Regions from separate parts of the Homo sapiens genome. Here region 2 is linked to region 1. The links come from fine-mapping of genetic effects on gene expression. Tissue or cell type: lymphoblastoid cells. Region 1 holds a variant in brackets; the other region holds the start of a gene. All regions are shown on one strand. Distances are from middle to middle.

Region 1 (8,182 bases):
CATTGACTCTGTACCAGGCGCTGTCCAAAATGCTTCACATTTATTAACTCATATAATGCTTAAAACAACCCTACAGTTAAATACTTTTTTTATACATGAGCCCCGCTTTATACAGGAACGAGGTGTGGCTCAGAAAAGATACATAACTGTCCCAGAGATGCACAGTTACTAACTGGCAAACAGAATCAGAATTAGGTATTATTAAAATCTCAAAATTCTTTCTCTTGATTACCAAGCTATATTGAAAGACTTATTGAAAAAATGAATGAAGATAGGAATAAATGAATGAATGACTTTCATTGCCCTTGGATATCTGGGAAGCCAAGCAACCTGTCCCCACAAGCCAGTGAAAGTGCCCTATTCTGACGGCCAGTGCTAATGTATAAAAACTAAAGAAGAGATTTATGCTTCCCATTTAATAATCTCACCTCTGGCAGCTCAAAAGTATATTCGATTTTAAAAAGCAAATGTTGCCACCTGTTATTTCAATGCTTTGACACCAAGATGAAGGATATGGAAATGCTTGACCAGCATGATGGACTCAAAGAAGTTGAAGAGCAGTGAATATTTTTTACTTATATTTATCACTAAGACATGAGAGGTTAGAAATGCCAAACATCATTCACTCATCCATCCATTCTTCCATCCATCCATTCATCCATTCATCCATCCATCCGTCCATCCATCCATCCATTCATCTGTCCATCCGTCCATCCATCCATCCATCCATTCATCCATTCATCCATCCATCCATCCATCCATCCATCCATCCATCCATCCATCCATTCATCCATTCATTCATCCATGCATCCATCCATCTATTCATCCAGTCATCCATCCATCGTTTCATCACTAATCTACCCATGCATGTATTCACTCACTTATTCATTTATCCACCCATTGATTCATTTCAATGTTCTCTCATTCACCAAATATTTATTAAGCTGTAGTACATTTTAGGTGAACTATTTAGGTGCTGGAAATACGTCAAGTTTGGAAAATAGTGGTCAAATGAATTTTCCTAAAACATGGAAAATGACCTCTGAACTGTGGCTTGAAGGACATGCAAAAACTATTCAGGCAAAAAAGTGCGTATTGTTTAGAGAATGTGGGAGGGGAGTATGGAAGCAGTTCTAGACATCAGTAACAACAGGTGTGCAAGCTCTGTGTGAGAGAAAGCCTAGCATGCAGGAAGCACTGGAGGAAGTTCAAGATGGCAGAACAGAAATGAGAGTATAGAGTGACAGGCATAAGGAAGAAAGAAGAGGTAAAGATGTGGACAAGTATGCTCAATCCTCCCTTTTGCTTCTAATAAGTAAGGAACGTCAGTTGCTATGTGGATCTACAAGGGATGCCCTGAGAATGGACTGTGCAAAGTTGAAGGGCACTTAATTTAACCATACCCATATCAATATACATATTGTTATAGGTAATGATGCAATGAATCAGGCATGAATTACAGCATTCAAACATGAGAGTCCAAATTGTGTGTGTGTGTGATATGTGATTTTATATATATATATATATAAGATATACATATACATATATATAATATATACATATACATATATATAATATATACATATACATACACACACACACACACACACACACACACACGTATATTCTTCATCTTCCTGTAAAACAACTTCAGTTCTTATCCTAAGTCTCTATTTTGCAGGGTATAGTGGGAGAAAAAAGAATCACTATTTCTCCCTGAGGTCTAATGTCACAGTGCAAGGAGTTTGGGGGTAAGATGCTGTAGACTCCAGCAATCTTTCCAGCCAGTATGGATGTTTTACTATTGCCCTGCAGCCTCAACAGCTCTCTGCTTCATTATCAAGCTTAACACCATACATTTTTTTTTTTTTTTGAGGCAGAGTCTCACTCCATCACCCAGGCTGGAGTGCAGTGACACAATCTCATGCCACCATGCCCAGCCAATTTTTGTATTTTTTTGTATGGACAGGGTCTCACCATGTTGACCAGGCTGGTCTTGAACTCCTGGGCTCGAGCAATCCATCTGCGTCAGCCTCCTAAGGTGCTGGAATTGCAGGCATGAGCCACTGCACCCAGGCATCCGCCAGACGTTGTTTTTTTTGTTCTGTTTTTTTTGTTTTTAATGCTGTCTGGAGTCCCATTTGCCTAGAACCACCACATTGCCGCTTTCTTGTGATTTTATGGGTTCCCGTTCATGAGTCTAGGAAGTGTAGCCTGGGTCACCTCCCTTCTGTACCCAGAGATCTCTCTGTCAACCCTCTTCACTCATCTCCCAACTGATGGGTTGAAGGTAGAAAACCTCTTTCCAGGGTTATGAGGAGGGGACCCACACTCCTCCCATGATGCTACTTCATATCCAAAATAATTGTCTTTTCTATGGTTTCATCTTTTTTTATTTTCTTTTTTTTGAGATAGGATCTCACTCTGTTGCCCAGGCTGGAGTGCAGTCATGATCACAACTCACTGCAGCTTCAGCCTTGAGCAATCCTCCCACCTCAGCCTCCAGAGTAGCTGAGACCACAGATGTGCACCACCACACCCAGCTAATTTTTTCAATTTTTTGGTAGAGACGGGGTCTCAAACACCTGGGCTCAAGCGATCTTCCCATCTTGTCCTCACAACGTGTGGGATTGCAGGCATGAGCCACCATGATGCCGGGCTTCATCTTTTGAATACAAAAGCCAGGAAGAAAGTGTAGGGGTGACAACATCAGTTTTCTTCCTATCATATCTCCACTCAAGGCCATGGACAGTGAGCTGATTATCAATTTGGTTGGGGGCAGGAGTAGGAGATAGGTGAGGAAGAAATGGGGAAATGCAGAAAAAAAGAACAATAGATTAACACCCATATCGTGGTGGAGATGTGATGCAGAGGTAGACATAAGCAGAGACCCAGCAACAGACCTGGTAGATGGGAGACACAGACATATGATAAGATACAACGGTGTTATTACACTTGTGTTTCCAAACTTTCCTTGCAAGTGAAACTCATTTTTTCTCCATTTTCCAAAACTTAAAGGAAGGCCCTGCCTTGCCAGTTTTTTGGGAGAATTCTGTAATGGAAAAAATGAAAGGAGTGGTGAGAGGACAAGAAAAAGATAAGAGAAAGCAAGGATGGAGGAAGAGCAGTAGGTAGCTTGAGGAAAGAGGGGCTGAAACAGCTCTTCTGTGTGAGAACAGAGAAAGGAAGAAGAAAGATGAGAGAGCATTTTTTTTCTTCTGACACAGAGTCTCGCTCTGTCACCCAGGATGGAGTGCAGTGGCACGATCTCGGCTCATTGCAACCTCTGCCTCCTGGGTTCAACCGATT[C/T]TCCTCCTCAGCCTCCTGAGTAGCTGGGATTACAGATGTGCACCAGCCACCACGCCTGGCTAATTTTTGCATTTTTGGTAGAGACGGGGTTTCTCCATGTTGGCCAGGCTGGTCTTGAACTCCTGACCTCCAGTGATCCACCCACCTCAGCCTCCCAAAGTGCTGGGAATATAGGCGTAAGCCACCACTCCCAGTCTGAAAGAGCATTTTAAGAATGGTTGCTGAAGATTTTCTAGTACTCCCTGGAGCTGGACGTGGGATATTGCACTGCCAGCCCTCATGAGACTGGTTAAGTTTCTGCAGATGCTGAGAGCCATTCTCAGACATTTTTACATGGCCCTGGGACCCCATGGACCACAGCTACTAAGTCTTAGGGCAGAAACAGAGAAAAGTACTCAGGGGCAAGGGAGAAATTTGTCACAGGTAACTTCACCAGGAAACTGCAGAGGAGATGAGAGAGTAACTACTAGCTAAGGAGGATTCCATGCATATGAGCTCAGGGAAGCCAGAGATCCTCCCCTAATACCACACAGGTCATTACTCAACTCTTCTCTCCAAGGATGCGCCAAGGGGTTCCATGGTCTTGACTTTCCAGAATAAAAGATCAATGTCAGTAGCAGAGTATCATGGCGGCTTCTCAAGCAGGTGCTGAGTAACAGAGTAGGAAGAACATGGCATCTAGAGTAATGTAATCATGTAATCTAGGACTACATTAAAATCTTCAACTCTCTTTATTTTGCAGGGTATAGTGGGAGAAAAAAATCCCTAGTTCTCCCTGAGGTCCCATGTCACTCCCTGAGGTCCCATGTTACAGTGCCGGGAGTTTGGGGGTAAGATGCTATAGATTCCAGCAATCTATCCAGCCAGTGTGTATGTTTTACCATTGCCCTGCAGCCTCAACAGCTCTCTGCTTCTTTATCAAGTTTACCCAAGTCTATCATTCCTCGGGTAATAAGGGAGCAATAACAGCTACATCCCAATGTTGTTGTATTGCATTAACCCGCACTCCTAACACGCCTGGCACATGTGAGGATCCAAATAACACCCTGACTGTCTCCCTTAAATGCCTCCCTGAAAGCTCAAGAATGTAAATTCTTATGGGTTAGGATACAAAAAGCAAAAAATAAAAATAAATCAAAAACAAAATAAATACAGAACAAACAACAGAGACTCACTTTTTTCATTATAATATAAATTCTAATAAAGTTGTTAAAGGTGGCATAAAAAGCATTTTTTGCAAATCCTCCTGTTGGTAAGTTATTCATTCATTTTTTCATTCATTCCACTTTCATTAATGACATTAATAACAATAGGGATTAAGGATCCAAGCTCGGGAAACAGAAGAACATAGAGTTTGAATAAATATAAGCTGTTTTGTAGGTAACTAATAATAAATACTACCACGTACCCTATTTGAATGACAAGATTACCAAGATAAACGTTACACACCTATCTTAAAATTACACAAAATCCAGTAAGGAATGAAGACCAGTTAAACTATCTGTTAAGAATGTTTTCAACTATGCATGACAGAACTTCTAGCTAACAATGGCTCAAAGCAGGAGAACATTTATGATTTATTTAACCAGGAATTTGAAAGTTGCTGGTCCCAGGGTTGGCCTGGCAGCTTCATGATTTCCTAATGGGATGTGTGCTCCTTTCTATTCTTCCTTCCTTGTTATATTGACCCATCCTTCTTATGTTTGTTACTGTGTGATCACAGCAGGCTGCCACTGAAGGAGTTCTCACATTTGCCTTTAAGACAGGAAGAGAGAAGAAGGAGAAGTCCTCATGGGGTTTTTGCCATGTTTTCCTTACCCCTAAGAAGCAAAACACCTTTTTAGAAGTCAATCAGCCAACCTGATCAACATGGTGAAGCCCCATCTCTACTAAAAATACCAAAAAAAAAAAAATAGCTGAGCGTGGTGGCATGCGCCTGTAATCCCAGCTACTTGGGAGGCTGACACAGGAAAATTGCTTGAACACGTACGGCAGAGGTTGCAGTGAGCTGAGATCGCACCACTGCACTCCAGCCTGGGCAACAGAGTGAGACTCCGTCTCAAAAATTAAAAAAAAAAAATTTAAAAAGGAGTTCAATCAGCATACCTGTCCTGACATTGCACTGGACAGAACTGGGTCATAGGCCCTTCCTCTGTAGGTTCAGGGAAAGCTGGTAAAGTATACCCCAAGCTTTTCAGCTTCTACAGAGAAAGGAGCAAGAGAGAAGATGGAAGTTAATGCCTGTTGGGTTAGCCACCTAATAATGTCTCCCTCAGAAACCTTCAGTATACAGCACCAACTGATATGGGGGGAACATTTATATTGTCAACAGAGGAGAGGTTGACTGACTGTGCTTTGGGGTTTGAGGAAGACTTTATACAGAAGACAACACTGGAGTAACATCTGAAATAAATGCATGGACGTGTGCCATTTGCAGTTAAGGACAGGATCTTTCAGTCATGGAGAACAGCAGATGCAAAAACAGAGAGATTGGAAAGAGAAAGACATCAAGGAAGAAAGGTGAGCTTGCAGTTGGTAGAAAAAGTAACTGTGCCACGGTGTGAAAGACATCTAGACAGTGAAACAAGTTAGGGTCCATCTTGTCCACCAGTATTTCTCAAAATAAGACGCTGCTGTTAGCGAATAGGAGAGCATTTTAGGAGGCAGATGAAAACAGCACTAAAGAGCATTGAGTTACATGAAAAAAGTATTCCCTTATAAATTCTCACGTAAGTCTTGTTTTTGCACCAAGGAGAAAGTCTTGGTTTGGTGTTGCTCTATCTTCAACATCTCCCTCTCTTATTCATGCCCCATTTTTAGCACAAAGAGAGCAAGCCTCAGGCAGAGTGCCTTGTCAACAGCTCCCAGAGAGGATTTAATAACACTGTTTGGTTTTGTTCTGTTTTCATCATATTCATGCTTCCGGTGACCTTATAGAGATGGCAAAGGGCAGTGTGCATTTGAATGAAAGCTATAATTTATTGTATTTTAATCTACATAAATATTTCCCAAAGTGAGTTAATTTACAGGAAAAGCTTGCATACATATGGCATACGTGGTATACTATATGACAGCAGTCATGAAGATCATCCACAGTGATGTCCTTACATCGTAAAACCATGAAGCTGATCTGCAAGAAGGGAAAGTTTGGGAAATCTTGATCCAGTGTATGGGAAGGCAGTCATATTTCTGCAGAAAGGGAGGAAAATGATCAGATTGGTCTCACAAAGACTTGCTGTTAATAAATGAGTAGATGACATGCAAGGAGCTCAGGATCCTGCCAGGCACATAAAATAAGTATTAACTATGTGAGTGCCATTAGCACTACTAAAGTCATTTTCAGTTTGCAAGCAAGGTGAGTTTGAGGGTGAGAGATTGGACACAGGTGGTGAGTCAAGAGGTTGTTAGTTTGATAGAAGCTAAGCAAAATCCAGGGACAGTGAGAAGACATTGAGCAAGAAAGATTCTGCAGCTCTCCATGGGACAGAGGCCGGGGTGAATTCCTCCTTTCCCTCAGTTGGAGCTTGAAGCTGTCTGAGTCCCAGGCGGCTCACTGTGACCCACTGCCAGGGCTCGCCTGCGCGGATCTACTCAGATGAACGCAGTGCACACACACATAAAAATCCCCAAGCACATTCTGTCCCAAATGAGGCACCTTGTCATTTTCAGAATATCAGCTGTCACACATAGCGAGAGTCCTCATCTGCTAAAATGAGAAAGGGGGCGGGGGGAAAGCAAAGCACCTGAACATAAACTAAAAAAAGATTTGAAACCTTGCTCTAAAGAACATCTCATCAGCCAGAGTCTTTTCAGTGAGGCAGCCCTGCCAGGAACACAATCCAGCACCTCCCCCAGGCAGAACGGCAGAACGAGGGGGAGAGAAGAAGGGGGAGAGAGAGGAAGCTGTGGGTGGGTTCTACTGCCCCCCTACCACCACACACACTCCCCATGTGTTATCCAGTTCAATCCTTATCACAGTTCTGTAAAGAGGCCAGAGCTCAGAGGAACTGGGTGACTTGCCCATGATCACGCAGCCAGCAAAGGATCCCCTCTGGGACCGGAACCACATGTAGCCAGCCCGTCTGTGTCCAAAGTGCCCCTTTGGGCCAATTTTATATTATCATTTTTGTGGGGGGACAGGATCTCACTTTGTTGCCCAGGCTGGAGTGCAGCAGCACAATCCTGGCTCACTGCAGCCTCGACCTCTTGAGCTCAAGTGATCCTCCCTCCTCAGCCTCCCAAGCAGCTAGGACTACAGGCTTACCACCATGCCTGGCTAATCTGTGTATTTTTTGTGGAGATGGGGCTTTACCGTGTTGCCCAGACTGGTCTCGAACTCCTGAGCTCAAGTGAGCTCCTGCCTTGGCCTTCCAAAGTGCTGGGATTACACACGTGAGCTACTGTGCCTGGCCCCCAGTATTTTTTTCAACTTTTATTTTAGACTCTGGGGGCACATGTGCAGGTGTGCTACAAAGGTATATTACATAATGCTGGGGTTTGGAGTACAATTGAACCCATCACTCAGCAAGTGAACACAGTACCCAGTAGGCAGTTTTTCAACCCGTGTTCCCTTCCACCCTCCCCCATCTTGTATTCCTCAGTGTCTACTGTTCCCATCTTTACTCCGTAAGCACCCAATGTTAAGCTCCCACTGATAAGTGAGAACATGTGGTATTTGCTTTTCTGTTTCTGTGTTAATTCACTTAAGATAACGGCCTCCAGCTGCATCCCTGTTGCTGCAAAGGACATGATTTTGTTCTTGTTTTACAGCTGTGTAGTATTCTATGGTGTATATGTACCACATTTTCTTTATCCAATCCACTGTGGATTAATTCCACAGCTTGGTTAATTCCATGTCTTTGCTATTGTGAGT
Region 2 (8,182 bases), 880 kb after region 1:
GTCTTTCTTTCTCTCTCTCTCTCTCTCTCTCTTTCTTTTTGAGATGGAGTTTCACTTTTGTCGCCCAGGCTTGAGTGCAATAGTGCGATCTCAGCTCACTGCAACCTCCGCCTCCCAGGTTCAAGCAATTCTCCTGCCTCAGCCTCCCAGGCACCCGCCACCACGCCCGGCTAATTTTTTTTTGTATTTTTAGTAGAGATGGGGTTTTGCCATATTGGCCAGGCTGGTCTCAAACTCCTGACCTCAGGTGATCCGCCCGCCTCGGCCTCCCAAAGGGCTGGGATTACAGGCATGAGCTACCACGCCCGGCCCACACTTCCATTTTCTTAACTGGCTGTTTTAATTTATTAGGTCCTTGTGGAAGCTCCTCAAACGGATTACCATTAACACCTCCAATCTCATGACCAGTGCTGGATGCTTGCAAAATTGTCACTAAAGTTTGACATTCCTGACTTAATGCATCTGTTTCAATGTCTTTTTCTAGAATGAGACATGATGACTTCTGAAAAGTGTCTTTAAATTTCTCCTGACCATTACTAGTGGACAGTTTTTTATTTTCCTCTTGCAGCTTATGGGGGCCTGTTTCATTACCAGCAATAATATCCATTGTTTGGTGATCTTCCTTTTTGAGACAGCTATTTTCTTGAGCTGCCTTATTCCAAACAGCCTGTATTTGTTCTCTGTCCAAAGCAGGTGCTTGCAGTTGCTGCTGAAGGTGAGCAACGCCCTGGGTGTCAGAGGCTGAAGCTGTTCTAGCCTGAAGGCCCTGCACCTCTGTATCTTCCTGACCAACCCCATTGATGGACAGCTGATCCATCTGTTTAAAGTCATATTATTTTTACTTATAAATTTATTCTCCAATTCTTTCTTTCCCCCTCTGGTCCTTGATTCAGGATTAATCTCCAATTCTTGCTCTTTCATTCCTTTCACTAATCTTTCAGTTTCAGATTTAAATAAACTATGCGTTTCACTTCTGCTTTCTATATTGGGACATTCAACTTCTGTTGCTTGAAAAATGGCTCAGAGTCTTTTAATGTCTTGTCCTGTTTCATGCAGCTGGGTTTTGATTCTTTTCCTATTGTGTTTTGCAAATTCCTAATTTCTTCACCTTTTACTGAAAAGAGCTGGGTGTATGTGATACTCATTTGCTTGTGCTGGTTTTAAAAATCATCCATTTCCTACTTTTTTCTCCTCTTTTAAAGACTGAAGCAGTTGCATCTTACTCTGTGTTTGCTCTTCAATTATGGTTATTTATTTATTTATTTTTGAGACAGAATCTTGCTCTGTCGGCCAGGCTGGAGTGTAGTGGCACAATCCTGGCTCACTGCAACCTGTGCCTCCTGGGTTCAAACAATTCTCCTGCCTCAGCCTCTTGAGTAGCTGGGATTACAGGCACCCACCACCACACCCGGCTAATTTTTGTATTTTTAGTGGAGACAAGGTTTTGCCATGTTGGCCAGGCTGGTCTCAAACTCCTGACCCCAGATGATCTACTCACCTCGGCCTCCCAAAGTGCTGGGATTACAGACGTGAGCCGCTGTGCCTGGCCTCTTCAGTCTTTTTTGTTTTTGTTTTTGTTTTTTTTGACGGATTCTTCTTCTGTTGCCCAGGCTGGAGTACAGTGGTGCGATCTTGGCTCACTGCAACCTCTACCTCCTGGGTTCAAGCGATTCTCCTGCCTCAGCCTCCAGAGTAGCTGGGACTACAGGCACTTCCACCGCACCTGGCTAATTTTATTTTTAGTAGAGACAGGGTTTCACCATGTTGGCCAGGCCGGTCTTGAACTCCTGGCCTCAAGTGATTTTGGCCTCCCAAAGTTCAAGTGATTTCTTGAACTCCTGGCCTCAAGTGATTTTGGCCTCCCAAAGTGCTGGGATTATAGGCATGAGTCACCATGCCCAACCTTCAAATATATTTTGATGATACTTTATTCCCTCCTCAAGATTACCTTTGATTATTTTCATTTGAAATATCTCCAATTCTAGTACCATAATAGTATCTACCATTCTAGGCTCAGCCACAGGGGCAGTTAGACTTTGTTGTCCTCTGAGTCATTTCAATTCTTCTATCAGATTTTTTTTTCTTTCATGGATGCAAGACATCTGTCTTTTTCCTCTATGGTTTGCTATGAAATTTCTTTCTTTCTTTCTTAAGGTTTTAGTATAATAATTCCTCTGGAAGCTCTGAACTTCCTTTAAGTTTTTTTTTAAAAAAATTGCTTTCTCTCTTATAAGTTGTGTCAATTGCTTCTGCTCTTCTCAACTAGATGACAAAATCAAATCAGTCTCTGATTGTCTTCTTGGAGGGATCTAATGGTTGCATCTTTTTCCTGCAGCGATTTTCTTAGCTCTTCAATCTCTTGGAGTAAATTTAGGAGCACTTTTTCTTTAGTTTCTTTATGGTCAGTGTCCATCTGTTTAATATTCTTTTTTTTTTTTTGAGACAGTAACCTTGTCACGTTGTCTCTGTCACCTTGACTGGACCACCCTGTCACCTAGGCTGGACCACCCTGCAGAGGCCAGATCTCAGCTCACTGCAACCTCTGCCTCCAAGGTTCAAGCGATTGTCTCGTCTCAGCTTCCCCAGCAGCTGGGATTACAGGCGCCCGCCACCACGCCTGACTAATTTTTGTATTTTTAGTAGAGACTGGGTTTCACCATGTTGGCCAGGCTGGTCTTGAACTCCTGACCTCAGGTGATCCACCTACCTCGACCTCCCAAAGTGCTGGGATTACAGGTGTGATGCATTGCACCCAGCCTCAATATTCTTTTTGAGTGCTGACATTTCAGAGTCTTTCTCGTGGCTGAGTTTAATTACACACTCTTGCTCTAGCTGTAAGGCAGAGCTCTCCAGGTTAGCTTCAGTGGACAATCTTTTCATGGTTTTCTCAGAGTTGTTTCTTCCAATAGCCTCTTTTCAGCTAGGGGTCTCACTCTGTCACCCAGACAAGAGTGCAATGGTGTGATAATAGCTCACTGCAGCCTCAAATTCCTGGGCTCAAATGATCCTGTTGCCTCAGCCTTTCAACTAGTTGGGAGTACAGGTGCATGCCACTGCTTCTGGCCTTTTTTTTTTTTTTAAATTTTTCATAGAGATGAGGTTTTAGTATGTTGTCCAGGCTAGTCTCATACTCCTGAGCTCAAGTGATCTTCCCATCTTGACCTCCCAAAGTGCTAGGATTACAGGTGTGAGCCACTGCACCTGGCCCCAGAAGATAATTTTTTATTTGTCTTTTACTCTATGTTCAAATTCTTCAATTTTTTGGTAGACTCTACTTTTTCAATTTGTAGAGCTTGCATGAATAGTGTTTTCCTTCTCTTGAAGTTTAGAGAGATCATGTACTGTAATTCCTGAGCCACCTTGCTGTAACAAATTTTCCAGTTCTTCAATCTTTTCTTCCTAATTGCTTAGATTTTCTTGATGCTTACAACTTATTTCCCTCAATTTCTGTTGATGAACATTCTGTAATACTGATAATTCAAGCTGATGGTCATCAGTATCCTGACTTCTTTTTTGTTTGAGCTCCTTGATGATATTAATATTTGGTGTTTGTAGTTTGTAGATTTCATTTTCATCAAAACTAGTTGTTCCTCCTATTTTATAAGTCTGAGCAATACATTTCCAATGGCCAACTGGAGACTCAAGTTTTAGAACTTCATTGGACTATCTGTTTATTTCTTGTTATGATGAAATTATGTCATAAAAACCCATGTAAGCGTCGTGGAACACTGAAGCATGATGGGTACCACATGGAATGGAGGGGATGCAGTGTGGATGGGAACCTCCGGCCTTCCCTGAATGTGCTGACTCCAGGGCTGGCTGCCGGTCCTGCAACCGATCCTGTAGTGCTTGCTTTCTTGTTTTAGGAAGGCTCATTTCTACCTCTTTCTGTTGTAATTGATGTCGATAACTTTTAGTTTGCTGCCCTATCTGAAGCTCTGATGCTTCCTAGGTCTCTCCTAGGTCACTAAAAAGATCTTGAAGTCCCTCATTCTTTGATATTAAGAATTCCAAACTGGCATCAGTCTCCTTTATCCCATAGTTAGGGAGCTCTTTCCTTTTTCTATGACATTTAGGAGCACATTTGAGATGTGGCTGATGAAAGAAGCCACATTGCTGCCCATCCAATGCAAAGAAGGGGCTTACCTGGAGCCAAGGCCACCAAACCAGGAAGACATGAGTGTGTGAGCACGTGTGTTAAGGAAAACACACATTGACTTTAATTTTTTTTTTTTTTTTTTTTTTCGAGACAGGGTCTCTCACTCTGTTGCCCAGGCTGGAGTGCAGTGGCGCCATCTCGGCTCACTGCAACCTCTGCCTTTCGGGTAAAAGCCGTTCTCCTGCTTCAGCCTCCTGAGTAGCTGGGATTACAGGCGTCCACCACCACGCCCAGCTAAATTTGTATTGTTAGTAGAGACAGGATTTCACCGTGTTGGCCAGGCTGCTCTCGAACTCCCGAGCTCAAGTGATCTGCCCCCTCGGCCTCCCAAAGTGCTGAGATTACAACGTTGAACCACTGCGCCCTGCTAGAAACAGCTTTTCATACGTTGAAATAAACGAGAGGGTGACCGGGCAGCGTTGGGGTCGGGGAGGCCAGGCGGAGGAGGCCTAGTGGTCTTCTCGCCCGGGGCCTTCTAGCTCTTCGCCCGTGTCAGGTAAGGCACTGTTAGCCTCGGCTCGGTTCGACTCGGCTCTACTCGGGCTCAGCTCGGCTCGGCCAGACCTAGAGGGCGGGCGGGCGGTGCCACTGGAAGTGACGAGGCGAGGGCGGGGCCGCCGGCCCGGGGAGCCACCGCCGCGCCGCCGTTTGGGCCGGGAAGCGATGTAGTAGCTGCCAGGCTGTCCCCCGCCCTGCCCGGCCCGAGCCCCGCGGGCCGCCGCCGCCACCGCCGCCATGAAGAAGCAGTTCAACCGCATGAAGCAGCTGGCTAACCAGACCGTGGGCAGGCGAGTGCGCCGGGCAGCACGGGGGTCGCACCGGGGCTGGGGGCGGAGGGCGGAGGGCGCGGGGGCGGGACGGCTCCTCCGCGGTCCGGCGGCTCTGAGCTGGGCCGCAGCCCCTGCCCGAGACCAGCGGGGCACGGGCCCGGGGGCTGCGCCGCGCTGAGGCCCGAGCGCCGCGCTCCAGGCGGCCCGCCTGTCTCTCAGCGCCGCCGGGCTCCCGAGACCTGCAGGGGAGGGCCGCCGCCTCCTCCGCCACACCGCGGGGTCCCCTGCCCATTGTCCCTGCCCCGGGAGCATCGCCCTCGGGGAGTAGACCCGGTCCTTCTCCTCCCTTCCCGGGGGCCGAGCCAGCTGGGATCGCTGCCCTGGGCTCAACAACGGTGACTTCTGTCCCTAACGCTGTGCCGAGCGCTGTGCTGTGGGGGGCGGCAGTCCCAGGCTTTCCCGGTGCTCCCGCTGTTTGCGAGTCCTTCTCCTGTAAGTGCATGGCGGCAAGAAATGGCTAGAGGGACATGAAAGCCAGCCGGATTTGCTCAGTGAGTTCAGAACGCCCTTTGAGGGAATTCGGAGGTGGTGCTGTCTCAAAACCAGGGCTCCTAGGAACTGGACTGCTGCTGCCAGTTCTTGACATTTAGAAATTAGGAATTGGCGGAAAAGGATTATGGAGACGCCTTGCGCCAATTTAAAAAGTCTCACCTTAGGTTTGGAAACAAATGCTTCTTTATCTTCCTTTGCTACGGTTGAAGTGCTTAACAAGAAACGTTATTGATTATTAAATGGCAGGCTAGACCAGAGTTGGTAGATCAGGTTGTCAGAACAAGAAATGATTTGTGGTTTTTGAGAGTTTCTGGAGGTGACTGTCATGTGCTGTATTATCTGGGGCTAATATTTCAAGGTCTTTCAGGGCAGCTGGCTGTACTGTACCGATTTAGTGTTTATTCAGCAAAGAGATACGAAAGTATGAATTTCTCACAGCTCTTCTTTTGATTTTCTGTTTTTAACAGTTAAGGGGAGTTTGGTTTGGCTGAAGCACGTGGGACACTTCTTTTTTTTGAGTGTATGAAAATACTTTTACTTCCTCTCGAGTTTTCTAAATTTGCTTTTTACTGTTTCATTTCCTCCATCTTTTTGCTTAGTTTCCTTGTTTAATTTTTTCGATTCCCTACCGTATTATTGTGGTGAGAATTAACTCTTATTTTCAGGGTTAATCGCTGCCCCTAAAGCCCAGACAAACCTACTTTTCTGTTATTTGCAGGAAAATTAAAGAAATAATGCTGAGAGGAAGGTAGACGTGTGGTAATGGCGGCTGATGTTTCAAGGAACAGTTTACAAGCACATGATAATTTCTTGTGAGTTTCGTACCCTTGTTAGTGTTCTGAGCAACGTGCATTGTGGAACTAGTATTTAGTAAGTGCCAAGATACATTTGTCAAATAGTCGTTTGGCTTGTTTTTACATTGTTCGTGACAGGTAAGGGACTTTCACTCTTTTTATACAAAGTTCTGAGACTTAAATCTACCAAGCTATTTAGGGTCTCTTTGACTCCTGGGTCATCTTAGAGGCTTCTCCCTTCACACTTTTTTTTTTTTTTGAGACAGGGTCTCCCTTTGTCACCCAAGCTGGGGTGCAGTGGTGCGATCTTGTCTCATTGCAGCCTTGACTTCCCTGGGCTCAAGCGACCCTCTCGCCTCAGCCACCTATGTGGTTGGAACTACAGGTGGGCACCACCACATCCGCTAATTTTTGTATTTTTTGTAGAGTGGGGATTTGCCATGTTGCCTAGGGTGGTCTCGAACTCCTGGCCTCAACTGATCTGCCTGCCTTGGCCTCCCAAAGTTCTGGGACTACAAGCGTGAGCCACCTTGCCTGGCACCTTCACATTTTAAAATTCCGGCCATGCTTGCCTACCTTCAGTTTCCACAGGAGGTCTTGCTTTCTTACCTGCTAGCATCTACTTGGAACTCCTGGAAGCCTCTCCCACCACACCTTTTCTCCAGGCACCTCTTGCTCATTCTTCAGCCTTCTGGGAAAGGTCCCTCTGCCTCTGAAAGGCCTTCTATGATGCTACAGCATAGATTGGATGCCTCTCCTGGGCGTTCTTGTAATCCTGTGTAGCACTTGCTTTTCTGTGCTGTGACTGCCTCTTGTGTGTGTTCTCCATCAGATAAATACCTTGAGAGTCCTTGCTGTGTCTCCTTTGATTCCCAGGGTCTGCTGTGGTTCCTACCCCATGGCCAGGGTGCAGTAGACATTGTTAATTCTGGTATTTGAGTTCTTACTAGATCGCCTTGGTGGTGTGGGCCCGAGTATGGGAAAACATGAAGTGGATAGAGTAGATGGTGATTCATGCTGGAGCTGTAATTCTGGGCCTGACCTTTGACTGTCTTTAAAAATCTTTATTGCTAGATGCCAGTGGAAGCTGAAGCTATTACAGAACTATTAAGGGTGTGGCAATTATGCACCCAAAGTCAGAACATCTGTTTTTAACTGGGAAACCTGTTGCTTCCTTGCTGTTGATTTCCTAGATGTGTGTGTGTATGTGTTTTCTGCTTAAGTAATCAGAAAGGACTAAGGAAGATAAACGGAGGCTGGAGAGTGCCTAGAATTGTTACTGCTTGGAAGTAGGTGGTTGGTTGGCCCCAGAATCAGGATTCTGGGTGTTTTTAGGTCAAGATGAAGGCTACAAAGCAAAGGGTTTTTTTGTTTTCGCCCCTGCGATCTAGGTGGAGAAGGAAGTTATATATGTGAATGTCATGCCCATCGTGTTTTGGTTTATCAATTTGTGGAATTCTAGGTGGTGTCTTGCAGTGAGATATTCTCCTCAGAAGGGAGACCTTTGAGTACTTTCACTGTAAGGTTCCAGGGGAGGGACTTGTAGAGAATTAGTAATGCCTGGAAGGAATGAGTTCGCATGATGCAGTTTGTTTACGATGGGTGGGTAAGTCTATTTGAGAAGACGGCCTGAAACTCACAGGGGCAAGGCTTATGAGGTGGTCTCATGGTGTGAGTGTCCCAAAGAAGAGAAGTAGGATGGTTCTTTTAGTCCACCTGCCTTTTGTTGATTCATGCATTCAACAGACACTTGTTGAGCCTACACTGTGTCCTGTTATCCAGGGTATTAAAGAATCAAAGGTGAATACGGGCATGGTTTCTGCCCTGAGGGAGCTCAGGAGATACGTGGAAGAGGTAGGCAGGCAAAAAATAATTATATACATGAGATAAGTGCTTAAGAGGGATGG

Direction of the effects. Alleles are on the strand shown, and positions count from the first base shown. SD is a standard deviation of normalised expression in the study named.
As copies of T replace C in region 1, the expression in lymphoblastoid cells of the gene that starts at base 4,787 in region 2 goes down (large effect, 1.2 SD a copy in GENCORD).

Evidence for each region. PIP is the estimated chance that this variant, and not a neighbour inherited with it, causes the effect.
Region 2: it holds the start of ARHGAP17, and the variant in region 1 is fine-mapped to the expression of ARHGAP17 in lymphoblastoid cells (GENCORD, PIP 0.95).

Annotation. Positions count from the first base shown.
Region 1 is chr16:25,896,712-25,904,893 of GRCh38, reverse strand. The region is part of intron 1 of HS3ST4 (heparan sulfate-glucosamine 3-sulfotransferase 4); the gene reads right to left. Among named protein-coding and RNA genes, the nearest start is that of MIR548W, 120 kb to the left of the region's middle. The variant C/T (reference allele first, on the strand shown) is at 3,310.
Region 2 is chr16:25,011,974-25,020,155 of GRCh38, reverse strand. ARHGAP17 (Rho GTPase activating protein 17) reads left to right here and starts at 4,787. Exons shown (of 20, transcript NM_001006634.3): 1 at 4,787-4,947. The coding sequence starts at 4,895. It also overlaps the pseudogene LOC100421171. RefSeq lists silencers at 4,649-4,898, 4,979-5,028, 5,089-5,138, 5,199-5,248 and enhancers at 4,562-5,230, 5,231-5,899.